Linked DNA regions of Homo sapiens. The protein of the gene in region 1 purifies or fractionates together with the protein of each later gene. This does not show direct contact. Each region holds a gene or a part of one and is shown on either strand. Other genes may lie near its edges.

What was found.
Region 2: the proteins of DDR2 (region 1) and ZNF260 purify together in Homo sapiens (affinity purification with mass spectrometry; one large-scale study listed by BioGRID and IntAct). This does not show direct contact.
Region 3: the proteins of DDR2 (region 1) and PLD2 purify together in Homo sapiens (affinity purification with mass spectrometry; one large-scale study listed by BioGRID and IntAct). This does not show direct contact.
Region 4: the proteins of DDR2 (region 1) and HACD3 purify together in Homo sapiens (affinity purification with mass spectrometry; one large-scale study listed by BioGRID and IntAct). This does not show direct contact.

What each region holds. Positions count from the first base shown.
Region 1 is NC_000001.11:162,784,787-162,788,167, forward strand, and holds the end of DDR2 (discoidin domain-containing receptor 2 precursor), read left to right. Parts: 3' UTR 1-2,619; downstream 2,620-3,381. UniProt on the Homo sapiens protein: Tyrosine kinase involved in the regulation of tissues remodeling. It functions as a cell surface receptor for fibrillar collagen and regulates cell differentiation, remodeling of the extracellular matrix, cell migration and cell proliferation.
Region 2 is NC_000019.10:36,511,272-36,514,771, reverse strand, and holds part of ZNF260 (zinc finger protein 260), read left to right. Parts: coding exon 1-772; 3' UTR 773-3,500. UniProt on the Homo sapiens protein: Transcription factor that acts as a cardiac regulator and an effector of alpha1-adrenergic signaling. Binds to PE response elements (PERE) present in the promoter of genes such as ANF/NPPA and acts as a direct transcriptional activator of NPPA.
Region 3 is NC_000017.11:4,820,541-4,823,930, forward strand, and holds the end of PLD2 (phospholipase D2), read left to right. Parts: intron 1-1,252; coding exon 1,253-1,367; intron 1,368-2,099; coding exon 2,100-2,324; 3' UTR 2,325-2,890; downstream 2,891-3,390.
Region 4 is NC_000015.10:65,554,463-65,557,962, reverse strand, and holds part of HACD3 (very-long-chain (3R)-3-hydroxyacyl-CoA dehydratase 3), read right to left. Parts: intron 3,077-3,500; coding exon 3,003-3,076; intron 1,225-3,002; coding exon 1,060-1,224; intron 1-1,059. UniProt on the Homo sapiens protein: Catalyzes the third of the four reactions of the long-chain fatty acids elongation cycle. This endoplasmic reticulum-bound enzymatic process, allows the addition of two carbons to the chain of long- and very long-chain fatty acids/VLCFAs per cycle.

The sequences.
Region 1 (3,381 bases):
TCCAGTTTTCCCCATTTATAACATTTCACTTAGTCCATTTTCGGAACCAGAAAATTAACATTGGCATAATGCTATTAACTAAACTACAGACCTTTTTTCAATTTCGCCAGTTTTTCCACACATATTCATTTAGTTGCTGGATACTTTTAATTCTTGCTGATTTGTAAACTGGCCTTGCTTGGATACAACAGGAAAGATACTATCTGGATAAAGTTCTACAGTTTTAGAGAGACTATTAACACATTAATGTGTTCCTTTGTCATGAGCAATACCCTGCCTACACTGCTTCTAAATTTTCTGATTTGTTTGGCTGTTTGGCATCTGAAACAATCCAAGACAAACTTAGAAAGATTAGGCAACACAAAACACAGTAAGACCTGTTCATAGCTTGTTGTCTAGAAAACCAGGTAGCAGGATATTCTAGATGCTTCCTGCTGCTTCTACGTGAGTAGGATTAGCACTGGGGACAAAATAAGGAGTTTAGAGTAAACCAGTATTTCAGTCAAGAGTTAGTTGGCACTTAGTTAATGGCACTGGAAATAGCTTGTGGAGAGAATAGAATACAATGGTATAGACTCCTAATGTTTGATAAAATACTATTTTCAGAGTGGTAGAGAGGTTTTATTTGCCTAAATAGCCGTTATTAAATGGAATAACAACCACATTAGACCAAATTAATTGCAAACACAGCGGCAACCTGGGGAGAAGTTGAAACTCCAGTTTTGTGGATTACAGTTTTGAGTTTTATGATTGACATTTTTAAGTCCCCTATTTAAGGGGTCAAGATTATAACAATGTGTGTCTTACTAAGTTTCTAGGTCATTGTGAGCACTTGATAAATATTTGCTGAATGTTGTTTTTTTGAATGAACATAAGATAGAAACAAAAACTTCTCATCCAGTTAACTAGAGTGAATGTAGGGAGAATTGTTTTGCTTGTAACATGGAGAGTTTATTTTCAAGTGAGGAAAGAGAAAAAAATTACTCAGACTTGTTCCTGGTGAAGTGCATTCTCTGTTTGTATACTTTTTGATGGAGAAATTGATCTATAGAACTGCTTAATTTTTTGAGGCATTTAGACAGCAATGAAAGGTAGTTCTCCACAGGACACCGAATCAAAAGGAGAGACCAGACTCTGGCCTCATACCCAGCCTATTTGAAACAAGCTATCTAGTTTCTCCTGCAGACACCTTGTCAACAACATGCAACAGTGTCAGGTGCCTTGCAGGAAAATAATCTGAGTCCCAAGCTAGCCTGTGCTCATCCACAATCACAATGAACATGTCAAGGAAGAATTTGCAGAGACTCAAGGGAAGCACAATGGGATAAGGTAATCACTTTCAGTGAAAAACTGTTTTCTTGAAAACAGGCTTGGACACAATTGAAAGCTGGCTTCCTGCAAACACACCAAGAGTCTGTAATCTAGCCTATCCATTATATGTCCTTTATTATTCATGATATCCTATTCTTCTACCTTGTTGCCTGGTAACTTTTTCTGAGGACTGAGTTTCTGCAGCGATGTGGTGCACTCTTCCTGTGATGAGGAAACATCTGGGCCCCCTTCTGCAGGCTTTGGAAGATGATGTGTCTTGTCAAGGGGTAAAGGGCAAATGGATTTAATTTCTGCTTAAAACTATCATAGACGTTCCAAATAGAATATGTAAAATTTCTCTGTATTAGAAAAAGAAACGTGATACCAATTGTATATTTTCTTTTCTTTATTTATTCTCTGTAAGTCTGTCAGATGATAAATTGTAAATAACAATGATTAAAGAGTCATGCTACTGATGGATCTCCCTTTCTGTATAAACAGTGCCAGTTCTGGGCTTTGTAACCTTTGCTCTTTATAGTCTTTCATTCCTGGGGAAGTGATGGGGCATGGGCCCAGAGCTGGGGTGTATGTGGTATGGACACCTGTTTGTGGGGCTTTCCAGCAAAGGATTATTTAAATAGACCTCTAACATATGAGTTGACTGTTTATTGGGAAGAAAGCATCTTGGTCTCTGACATATCCAAACATACGAGACACTGGGATTTTACGTCCTCACATTAATTAGTCCAGTTCTGGGGAATCCAGTCTAGAATTAACTGGTGATCCCTTATCGTTATGGTTACAGACTTGTCTTGTTTGATACACAGAAATCCTTTTTAAATCCAAATATAGTCTGTCTCAGACTACCTGCACATGCACAAACCAAAAAAAACTATGAAAACCAGAATTTAGACTCAGTCATTATACTAGAGATTAGAATGAAACGACCCCAAACAACCCATTTCTTACCTGGTCTCTGAGAATAAGTTTATACTTTTAGTTTTCTGAGAATATTTCTCAGAATATGTGAGTTTTCTGAGCACATTTTTCAGCATGGGGTATGGTAGATAAATCACAGGGCCAAGGTTTGGCAGGGATAGATGGGATCATTGTGTACCCTATTGTTCTTCTGATTTCCAGGAGAACAGAATGAGCCCATGCAAAACATAAACTTATGATGATTAAAAAAAACACACCTATCCATTCACTCATCAATAAAAACATATTATGATGGTTATCAAGCTGTGTCCTATGAGTGATAAAATATTTGTAAAATATAAAATTAAATGGCATCTATTTTGAACTCTATTCTAGTCTCTCTGAGCACCTCTAGCAGTTCAGCCCATCTTTCAAAAGTCATAACACCTTGAAAGCAGCAACTTTAGTGCAGAAAAAGGAAGAAGAGAGCAGTTTCATCACTTGGCTTGAATGAAAATCTTGGGGAAAGGAGAGACAGACGGTCTTGCTCTGAAGCTGTCTGGACTTCACTTAATTCAGTCTGTCTTAGGCTGGCGGTCATCCCGAGACTGCGGTAATGCTGAGCCTCCACAGCCCAGGCCCTCTCCCTTCTTTATAGAAATGATTTTTTTATGGGACAGCCACACAACCAGGTCTTCTTCTTATTCCTTATCACCTCTGAGCTCTAGAACATTTTAAAATGAGTCTTTGGGTCTAGACTCTCACAATTAGGCTTAATTTTACTCCATGACTTTCAGAAAATGTTGTTAAATTGTGGTCTCTTTAGAACAGTTGAAAGTGGGATAAGCGTAGGAGCTGAGTTCCACCCCCATGATAAAGAAATTTTATTGGCCGGGCGCGGTGGCTCATGCCGGTAATCCCAACACTTTGGGAGGCCGAGGCAGGCAGATCACTTGAGCTCAGGAGTTCAAGACCAGCCTGGCCAACACGATGAAACCCCACCTCTACTAAAAAAAAAAAAAAAATATATATATATATATATATATACACATACATATATACACACACAAAAATTAGCTGAGTGTGGTGGTGTGTGCCTGTAGTCCCAGCTACTCGGGAGGCTGAGGCAGGAGAATTGCTTGAACCCGGGAG
Region 2 (3,500 bases), on another chromosome or scaffold:
AATTCATACTGGAGAAAAACCATTTGAATGTAATCAGTGTGGAAGAGCCTTCAGCCAGAAGCAATACCTCATTAAACATCAGAACATCCATACTGGAAAGAAGCCCTTTAAATGTAGTGAGTGTGGAAAAGCTTTTAGCCAGAAGGAAAACCTCATTATACATCAGAGAATCCATACTGGAGAGAAACCTTATGAATGTAAAGGGTGTGGGAAAGCTTTCATTCAGAAGTCAAGCCTCATTAGACACCAGAGAAGTCACACAGGAGAGAAACCTTATACGTGTAAGGAATGTGGGAAAGCCTTCAGTGGCAAGTCAAATCTCACAGAGCATGAGAAAATTCATATTGGAGAGAAACCCTACAAATGTAATGAATGTGGAACAATCTTCAGGCAGAAGCAATACCTCATTAAACATCACAATATTCATACAGGAGAGAAACCCTATGAATGTAATAAATGTGGAAAAGCCTTCTCTCGAATCACATCACTTATTGTACATGTGAGAATTCATACAGGTGATAAGCCTTATGAGTGTAAGGTCTGTGGGAAAGCCTTCTGTCAAAGCTCATCTCTTACTGTGCATATGAGAAGCCATACAGGTGAGAAACCCTATGGTTGTAATGAATGTGGGAAAGCCTTTTCTCAGTTCTCAACCCTTGCTCTGCACATGAGAATCCATACTGGTGAAAAACCTTATCAGTGTAGTGAATGTGGGAAAGCTTTCAGCCAAAAGTCACATCACATTAGACACCAGAGAATTCATACTCATTAAAGTTCTCTATGAATGCCTTGGATTTAGCAAAACGTTCAGCAGATTTTACACTTAATAGTGTATTGGAAAATTCATTTTACATTAAAGTGACATGAATGTGGGAAGTCCTTCAGCAGCAATTCAAAACTTAAATACTATGATGTTTAATAAGTATTATAGTGTAAAGAAAACCCGTACCCCCAAAACTCCCACAACAAGCATTATCAATGCTGTACTTCTAGGAGTATACTCATTAAAGTTAGGATCTAGTCATGGACACTACTTAATGTGTTCCTGGAAGGCCTACAGATGCATTAAGAAATAGATATGAGATGTATGAGGATTTGAAATTAAGAGACAAAATTATCATTTTTGTGATGTTTTGCTACATATATGAATTGTAAAACTAGAATCATCAAAATTATTTGTTGTTGAAGCAGTCATAAAACTGAGACTGAGACAGAATATTGAATTCAGAAATGTGTGCATGAATATATGGGGAATTGGTAATTGATAGAGGCGGTATCCCAGATTGGTGGGGAAATCATGGATTACTTAAAAATTAATTGACTCTTCATATGGAAAAATAATATCTCCCATCATAATATAAAATATTTTTCTTATGAATTCTTAAAGTACTAAAGACTAAAATGCAAAAAGCAATACTTAATAATATAACAGTTTTATAAGAAGATGTTTTTAAAACCTTAGGGCAGGAAAGAACTTCTAAAACATTCCAGAATACCCGGTAGTTCCACTCTTGAGTATGGTAGTCCCCTATTTTCTGCAAGAGATGGACTCTAAGACCCCCAGTGGATACCTAAAACCCAGATAGGACCAAACTCTATGTCTATGTTTTTTTCTTATATATACATACCTATGATAAAATTTAGTTTACAGATTAGACACAGCAAGAGATTTAAAACAATAATAAACATAATATGGAACAATTATAACAATATACTGTAATCATAAAAGTTATGTGAATATGATCTTTCTCTCAGAATACCTTATTGTACTGTTCTCAACTATTTATGAACTGTGGTGACTACAGGTAACTGAAACCATGGAAAGCAAAGCTGTGGATAAGGGGGAACTACTATATATATGCATCTACCCAAGAAACATGAACACAGGGAGTCATGTACTGGTCTATAGCTGTATAGTTCATTGCACCATGAGTTATAGTAGCCAGAAGTTGGGAAACAAATGCTGTCTCTTGTGAAATAGATGAATAAAATGTGATAGTAACATAGTAGAGTACTCTCTAGCAGTTAAGTGACAAATTAAGTCTATATATTAACAGAAATATTTTTAAAAAATTAGAGTGAAGAAAAATGATGAACATATTGTAATGATGCTTCTGTGAATTTGAATAAAATCAACACTAACCAGCCCTAGTACTAAGAATTGGTTATGGATAAATTATGTAAAACTAAAGAATGGATTGAAAGGATATGTATATACTCAGTTCCCAAAAGTGGAGTGGTTACCTCTAGGAAGAAAGGAGGTGGAAGGGAAATGTTACCAAGCATGGTAGTTAAAGGATACTTCAATTTTGTATCTATTTCTTATTAAAAAGAAACATTCTAAGTAAACATAACGAAATATTAATTCTGGGTGGTGGTAATATTTGTGTTCATTCTATCATTCGTGCTATTTATTTCCTTAAACTTCTGAAAGTTAAAAAGTCCAGATAGGAGTGAGGAAGCTGTACATGAAACATAATGGACTTACATTCCTAGTCAGATACTAATATTCTGTAGAAGATATTTCTAAAATCTTATCTTTAAAATATGAAATAATTTTTAATTGGGGTGGCAACTTAAATTCAATTAAAATAACTCATGTGTCACAAGAGTAAATTTTACATAATCTGTACGTAGTTCTAATCTGTATATAGTCTTGGAGGTTATGATTTGCCACAGATTGGTTGGATCACATACATTTAAGGATCATATTATTAAATAATATATGCACAGACATGGAGAGAATTAGTTTTTACTAAAACATTTATCAGAAATTTTAATACTCTGCATAACCAGTATTAGCATTAGAAATTAGCCACTTTTAAAATGAGAAAACTGTGTCACTCTTCAATTTTTTTATAAGCCATTGAGGAAAACATTAACTCCTGGATTTCAGCTTCACTTTTAACCTGCAGACTAAATTTCTTTCTCAATTATGTCAGACACACCCAAGTCAATCCCAACCCCCTTGTTACCTTGGGAAGACCGTGCTGAAAAAGGAGATCTTCCACCTAAACAGTGTTCTCTTATTTGAAGCAAATCTTTTTGAGAATTTGTTTACTTGATTTCTTTCCACAATAAACTGACAGAGAACGCTACTAATGATTTTTTTTTTTTTTTGAGACGGAGTTTTGTTCTTGTTGCCCAGGCTGCAGTGCAATGGCACAATCTTGGCTCACTGCAACCTCTGCCTCACAGGTTCAAGTGGTTCTCCTGCCTCAGCCTCTTGAGTAGCTGGGATTACAGGCATGCGCCACCATGCCCGGCTAATTTTGTATTTTTAGTAGAGACGGAGTTGCACCATGTTGGCCAGGCTGGTCTTGAATTCCTGACCTCAGGTGATCCACCTGCTTCGGCCTCCCAAAGTGCTAGGATTACAGGTGTGAGCCACCACGCCTGGCTAATTTTGTATTTTTAGTAGAGATGGGGTTTCTCCAAAGGCTGGTCTTGAACTCCCGACCTCAGGTGATCCGCCCACCTTGGCCTCCCGAAGTGCTGGG
Region 3 (3,390 bases), on another chromosome or scaffold:
ACCACCGCCCCTGGCCAAAAAAAAAAAAAAATCTTTTTTTTTTTTCTTTTTTTTTGAGAGGGAGTCTCACTGTCGCCCAGGCTGGAGTGCAGTGGCGCGATCTCGGCTCACTGCAGGCTCCGCCGCCCAGGGTTCATGCCATTCTCCTGCCTCAGCCTCCCGAGTAGCTGGGACTACAGGCACCCGCCACCTCGCCCGGCTAATTTTTTGTATTTTTAGTAGAGACGGGGTTTCACCGTGTTAGCCAGGATGGTCTAGATCTCTTGACCTCGTGATCTGCCCGCCTCCGCCTCCCAAAGTGCTGGGATTACAGGCATGAGCCACCACGCCCGGCCAAAAAAAAAAAACTTTTGTGTTTTGTTTGTTTGTTTGTTTTCTTTTTGAGACGGAGTCGCTCTGTCACCCACGCTGGAGTGCAGTGGCGCGATCTCGGCTCACTGCAAGCTCCGCCTCCCGGGTTCATACCATTCTCCTGCCTCAGCCTCCCGAGTAGCTGGGATTACAGGCGCCCGCCACCATGCCCAGCTAATTTTTTGTATTTTTAGTATAGATGGGGTTTCACCGTGTTAGCCAGGATGGTCTCGATCTCCTGACCTCGTGATCCGCCCATCTCAGCCTCCCAAAGTGCTGGGATTACAGGCATGAGCCACCGTGCCCGGCCAAAAAAAAAATCTTTTAAAAGTAATTTTTTTCACAGGTTCTGAGGATTGGGGAAAGAACAGAAAAAGAAGAAAATTTAAAATAAAAATAATTTTTTAAAGCATCAAGGTAGTCATCAAAGTCAAGACAAATCAGAACTCTGTTGGCTTCTTTTACACTTATTTTACTATTTTATATTGCATTTATTTTGTTTTTGTTTGTTTGTTTGTTTTGAGATAGGGTCTTGCTCTGTCACCCAGCTAGAGTTCAGTGGCGTTACCACGGCTCACTGCAACCTCGACTTCGCCAGCTGAAGTGATCCTCCCACTTCAGCCTCCCAAGTAGCTGGGACTATAGGCACATGCCACCGTGCCTGGCTAATTTTTGTATTTTTTTGTAGAGATGGGGTTTTGCCATATTGCCCAGGCTGGTCTTGAATTCCTGAGCTCAAGCAATCCACCTGCCTCATCCTCCCAAAGTGCTGGGAATACAGGCGTGAGCCACCGCACCCAGCCAATTTTGAATTACCTGAGTAGGGACAATGTAACTTTTCTGGTACTCAGGTTCTCTAAGGATCTTAATCTGGCCCTGCTGGGACCCCTTTCTCCTATAGTGTGATTCTTGGAGCAAATACCCGGCCAGACTTGGATCTCCGAGACCCCATCTGTGATGACTTCTTCCAGTTGTGGCAAGACATGGCTGAGAGCAACGCCAATATCTATGAGCAGGTGGGAACTTGGGAGGGGTGGGGGAGAGTGGCCTGGGGAAATTTGTGGATTATCCTGCTCAGGGTAGGATGGAGAGAAGCGCCACCATACAGTCATTATTGGAAGGGGGATGAGGGCCTGGGGACATTTGCTATCAAGAGATTTAGTGGCCCAGGCCGGGTGCAGTGGCTCATGCCTGTAATCCCAGCACTTTGGGAGGCCAAGGCCCGGTGGATCACCTGAGGTCAGGAGTTTGAGATCAGCCTCCCAACATGGCAAAACCCCATCTCTACTAAAAATACAAAAAAATTAGCTAGGTGTGGCTGGGAGGCTGAGGCAGGAGAATCTCTTGAACTCAGGAGACAGAGATTTCAGTGAGCCGAGATCACGCCATTGCACTCCAGCCACCTGGGCAACAAGAGCAAAACTCTGTCTCAAAAAAAAAAAGTACAAAAGTTAGCCGGGCATGGTGGTGGGCACCTGTAATCCCAGCTACTCAGGAGGCAGAGGCAGGAGAATCACTTGAACCCGAGAGGTGGAGATTGTAGTGAGCCGAGATCGCACCATTGCACTCCAGCCTGGGCAAAAAGAGTGAAACTCCGTCTCAAAAAAAAAAAGAGAGAGAGAGTTAGTGGCCCAGGGTCAACGGGGGGTATGGAGAGATGGTATGGGGGAAGGGGTCTAGCCTAGTTGGACTTAGATTGTTGGGAGAGTCTCCCCAAGCCTTACTGGCGTCCATGCCCCCGCCCACAGATCTTCCGCTGCCTGCCATCCAATGCCACGCGTTCCCTGCGGACTCTCCGGGAGTACGTGGCCGTGGAGCCCTTGGCCACGGTCAGTCCCCCCTTGGCTCGGTCTGAGCTCACCCAGGTCCAGGGCCACCTGGTCCACTTCCCCCTCAAGTTCCTAGAGGATGAGTCTTTGCTGCCCCCGCTGGGTAGCAAGGAGGGCATGATCCCCCTAGAAGTGTGGACATAGTTGAGGCCCCCGTCAGGGAGAGGTCACCAGCTGCTGTGCCCCACCACGTCTGGCTCCCTGCCCCTTAACCCCAAGGACTGAGGGCAGTGCCCTTTGAGATCTGGGGAGGCAGGCATTCCTGAAGGGAACTAGAGGTGTTACAGAGGACCCTTACGTGAGAAATAGCTGAAAAGGGCACTCCCAACCCTGGGCTGGGGAGGAGGAGAGAGTCCCAGAGCTCATCCCCCCTGCTGCCCAGTGCAAACCACTTCTCCATGCTGCAAAGGAGAAGCACAGCTCCTGCCAGGGTGAGCAGGGTCAAGCCTCTTATTCCAGGAGAAGGGGGCTCTGCCCCAGGCCCTACTACCCATTGTTCCCTTCCTCTTCCTGCCCTTGAACCCCCTCCCTGTCCCAGGGCCCTCCCAGCCCATTGCTGCCAAGGTGGAGGGAAGGATAAAGCCACTTCTGGCTTCAGCCCCCACCAGGGGAAGGAAGGAGGGCACATTAACTCCCTCCACCAGCCTGCTGACAGACACTAACTTTGTATCCGTTCAATAAGCATTTCATAAATAAAGGTGTAGAAAAGGTTCATGCGTCTTCCTTGGAGGAACTAACTGCTCGTTCCAGCCTCCCGTTCCTGCCCACACGGGGCACCAGTCCCCTTCACCTTATCTCCACCCTCCTCCACTCTCCTCTCTCCACCTCTGTTCTACCTATCTGTGGCTTCGGGAGCTCGGTCACCTGGCTCCTGAGAGGAGAAGGTGTTGACACAGTGCCGCCTGGGTAGAAGGACGGGCAGGGCCCAACCAGGGCACCTGGAGAACTGTGGAGCTGCTATCACAACCGCAGGTGAGGGAGATGCTCTGAGAAGGACCTAGAGAGGCTGCCTCTTGTTCAAGCAACAGCCCTGGTAGAGGCTTAATGAAGGCCCTGTGGGAGTGGTTGAGGGTATAGGCTTAAGGTCAGGAAGACCTGGACCCAAATCCTGGACTCCTCAATGAGAAGCTAGGTGAACTTGTCAAGTCATTCACTTCTCTGGGCCTCAGTGGTCCCCGCTGGGAAATGGGAATAATACTTACATGACTAG
Region 4 (3,500 bases), on another chromosome or scaffold:
GTGCTCAAAAAAAAAAAAAAAAACAGTCCCATAATGATGGCGCTTTCTCAAAAAGATACAAAAGCCAAATGAAAGATGGGCAGGATGAGGACATAACCAAAGGCCAGTTAGTGCCAAAGCTGGAAGAATTTGAGCAACAAAATAAATAATATTAGATTATAACTCAAAGTATAAAATAAATACCCATGTACTCACATGATATAAATGATTGAATAAATAAATGGGAGACAATAGACATGCATAATTATTCTCCTATGCAGAAGAATTCCAAATAAATTATGTAGATACTCCCTCCATCTAAAGGACAGGAAGCATAACTCCCTGCTCCTTAAATGTAGGCTACACATAGTGACTTCCTTCCAAGGAGAGCCAAGAGGAAAATAACCTTATGGTAGAGAAACCTGATAAGCGTCACCTCAAGCCAGCTAACCCATGGTTAATATCAACAGTGATGTGTCACGTTGACAGTATGTACTTTTTTTTTTTTTTTTTGAGACTCTCGCTCTGTTGCCCAGGCTGGAGTGCAGTGGCGTGATCTCGGCTCACGGCAAGCCCCGCCTCCCGAGTTCACGCCATTCTCCTGCCTCAGCCTCCTGAGCAGCTCCGACTACAGGCATGCACCACCACGCCCGGCTAATTTTTTGTATTTTTAGTAGAGACAGGGTTTCACTGTGCTAGCCAGGATGGTCTCTATCTCCTGACCTCGTGATCCACGCACCTTGGCCTCCCAAAGTGCTGGGATTACAGGCGTGAGCCACCGTGCCCGGCCGTATGTACTCTTGATATGATGTGATAAGAATTGCACTTTACTTCAGTGGTCTTCTCCTCAACATCTATCACCTTAGTCTAGTTGTAAGAGAAACATCAGACAGATTTCAACCGAAGGAAAGTCTATAAAATACATAGCCAATACTTCTTGAAAATCACATCACCAGGTCTTTAAATGAATTTGTAACTTTGTAGCTATTCTTTCAGACCGAGAGGTATCTGAAGTGGCCTGAATAACGTGGGTTCCCCATGATTTGTCCTCAATGGCTAGATCCTAGGATCCTTACTAACCTTAGCTCTGAGCTCCATTTCCGCATCAGATTCATCCAGCCAACGATCAAAGTCAGGAGCCAAAAACAGTGGTCGCTTTTCCTGCTTTGTGAGTCTCTCCCACCACTGACTCACTTTCTTCTGTACTGTAATGTTTACCTGCCTCTGGGTCAGTTTGTAAACAGGCTAGGAGAGAAAGTGAAAATGTGAGAATGCCCTCTTCTGTTCCCTGAAGCAGCACCATGCCAGGGGCGCCGTACATAGAAGCTGCAGGATATATTTATTCTCCTTCTTTCTCTGGTCCTGCAAGTCCTGATGCAAAGGGAACATCTAGACCAGGGGTCTCCAACTCCTGGGCCATGGACTGATACTGGTCCATGGCCTGTTGGGAATCGGGCCACACAGGAGGAGCTGAGTGGTGGGCAAGTGAGTGAAACTTCACCTATATTTAGACTCGCTCTCCATCACTTGCATTACTGCCTAAGCCCTGCCTCCTGTCAGATCAGCATTGGCACAAGATTCACATAGGAGCGTGAACTCTATTGTGAATTGTGCATGCAAGGAATCTAGGTTGCTCACTCTTTATGAGACTATAATGCCTGATGATCTGTCACTGTCTCCCATCACCCCCAGATGGGACTGTCTAGTTGCAAGAAAACAAGCTCAGGGCTCTCACTGATTCTACATTATGGTGAGTTGTATTCATTATATATTACAATGTAATAATAACAGAAATAAAGTGCACAACAAATGTAATGCATTTGAATCACCCTGAAACCATCCCCATTCCACCATCTGTGGAAAAAGTGCCTTCCACAAAATTGGTCCCTGGTGCCAAAAAGGTTGATCTAGACCAACGGCTGGCATGGAGAACTGGTAAGGACATAATGTCCTTCTCTGATTCCCCCAGTGAATGATACAGGAGGATATCAGGATAAGAAAGGCAAATAGTTCCTGGTTAGGCTGGAGGGAACTAGCATGAACCTCCTGCCACAGCCACATCATGCAAGGTACTATGTCCAATCACCCTCTCAAGGGTACTGCATCCAATTACCCTCAGCTTATAAATTTTCCTCCCATGAAAATGACTGTCCTGGCTCAGCAGACCCCGGTTTTAGAAACACCTGCATCAAGATCAGAACTGTATTGGATCAGTTACAGATTTTTTCACAGGGGTCAATTTGGGGAGTCTTCCCAACTAAACTCAAATTCTTATAGGCCATTCCAGCTCATTGTTTGTCTACATGTCCTGTCCCTTTTCTCCAAAGGAAGCTCCATGACAGGTTCTCTGCCCACTGTACCACTGGTTATTATTCATGCTTTCTCAAAACAACTGAGCACCTGCGCACGGAAATCAAGAAGCTCAAGCCACCAGAGCTAAGTGTAATTCCAGAAGCCAAAATACCCCATCTATTGGATTCTCTCCCTGCTTATGAGAGAAGCTTCCTCAGGCTCTAAGGGAAGGGAAGTTTTGATGATATCTGCAGCATTCTTTCTGAAGGCCAGCTGCCTTCACCCTTTCTGATTTCTATTTTTCTCACCTGCAACTGTGGCAAAGTCACATGAAAGTAACCCCTGGTGGGGGCTTCAACCACTCTATGTAACTCTGTTCTCAATGGGTGCCATATTCCTCTGCCATCACTAAAACCAGAGAATATCAGAGCTGGAAGGATCACTTAGTCCAGACCTTCATTTAACACATGAGAACACCAGAACTCGAAGAAGTTAAGAGACTTGTTCAAGATCACACTGCTAATAAATGGCAGGGCCCTGACTCAACTTGGGGTCTCTGACTTTCCCATTCCTCTGCAGCTAAAACCTGGGCTCTGTTCCAAATAAAAGAACTCTATTATTCCCCTTTGGTTTTTATCTTCTTCTCTCCACAAACCCTGCTCCCCATTTCACTAAACTACTGGTATTCATTTCCTAAAATGGGAAGGGAAGTGAGAAAGGAAAGAACATACCTCTGGTTTCACAAGGTCTAAGAACTCCAGGTGAAATTCATAGACATTGTCTCCTTTGGCACCATGTCCTTGAGCTATAAAGAAAGAAATGTGGGTTACTGCAAACTTGAGCAGAGCAAGGCCATCCAAAAGCCAGCTTGGTGCAGTTCTTTCCCAAGTATGCGAATATTACACTTTTTTTTTTTTGAGACAGAGTCTTGCTCTGTTGCCCAGGCTGGAGTGCAGTGGCATGATCTCGGCTCACTGCAAGCTCCGCCTCCCGGGTTCATGCCATTCTCCTGCCTCAGCCTCCCGAGTAGCTGGGACTACAGGCTCCCGCCACCATGCCCAGATAATTTTTTTTATTTTTAGTAGAGACGGGGTTTCACCGTGTTAACCAGGATGGTCTCGATCTCCTGACCTTGTGATCCACCCGCCTCAGCCTCCCAAAGTGCTGGGATTACAGACATGAGCCACTGTACCTGGCACGAATATCATACTTGATTGTAGCCAAAAGGC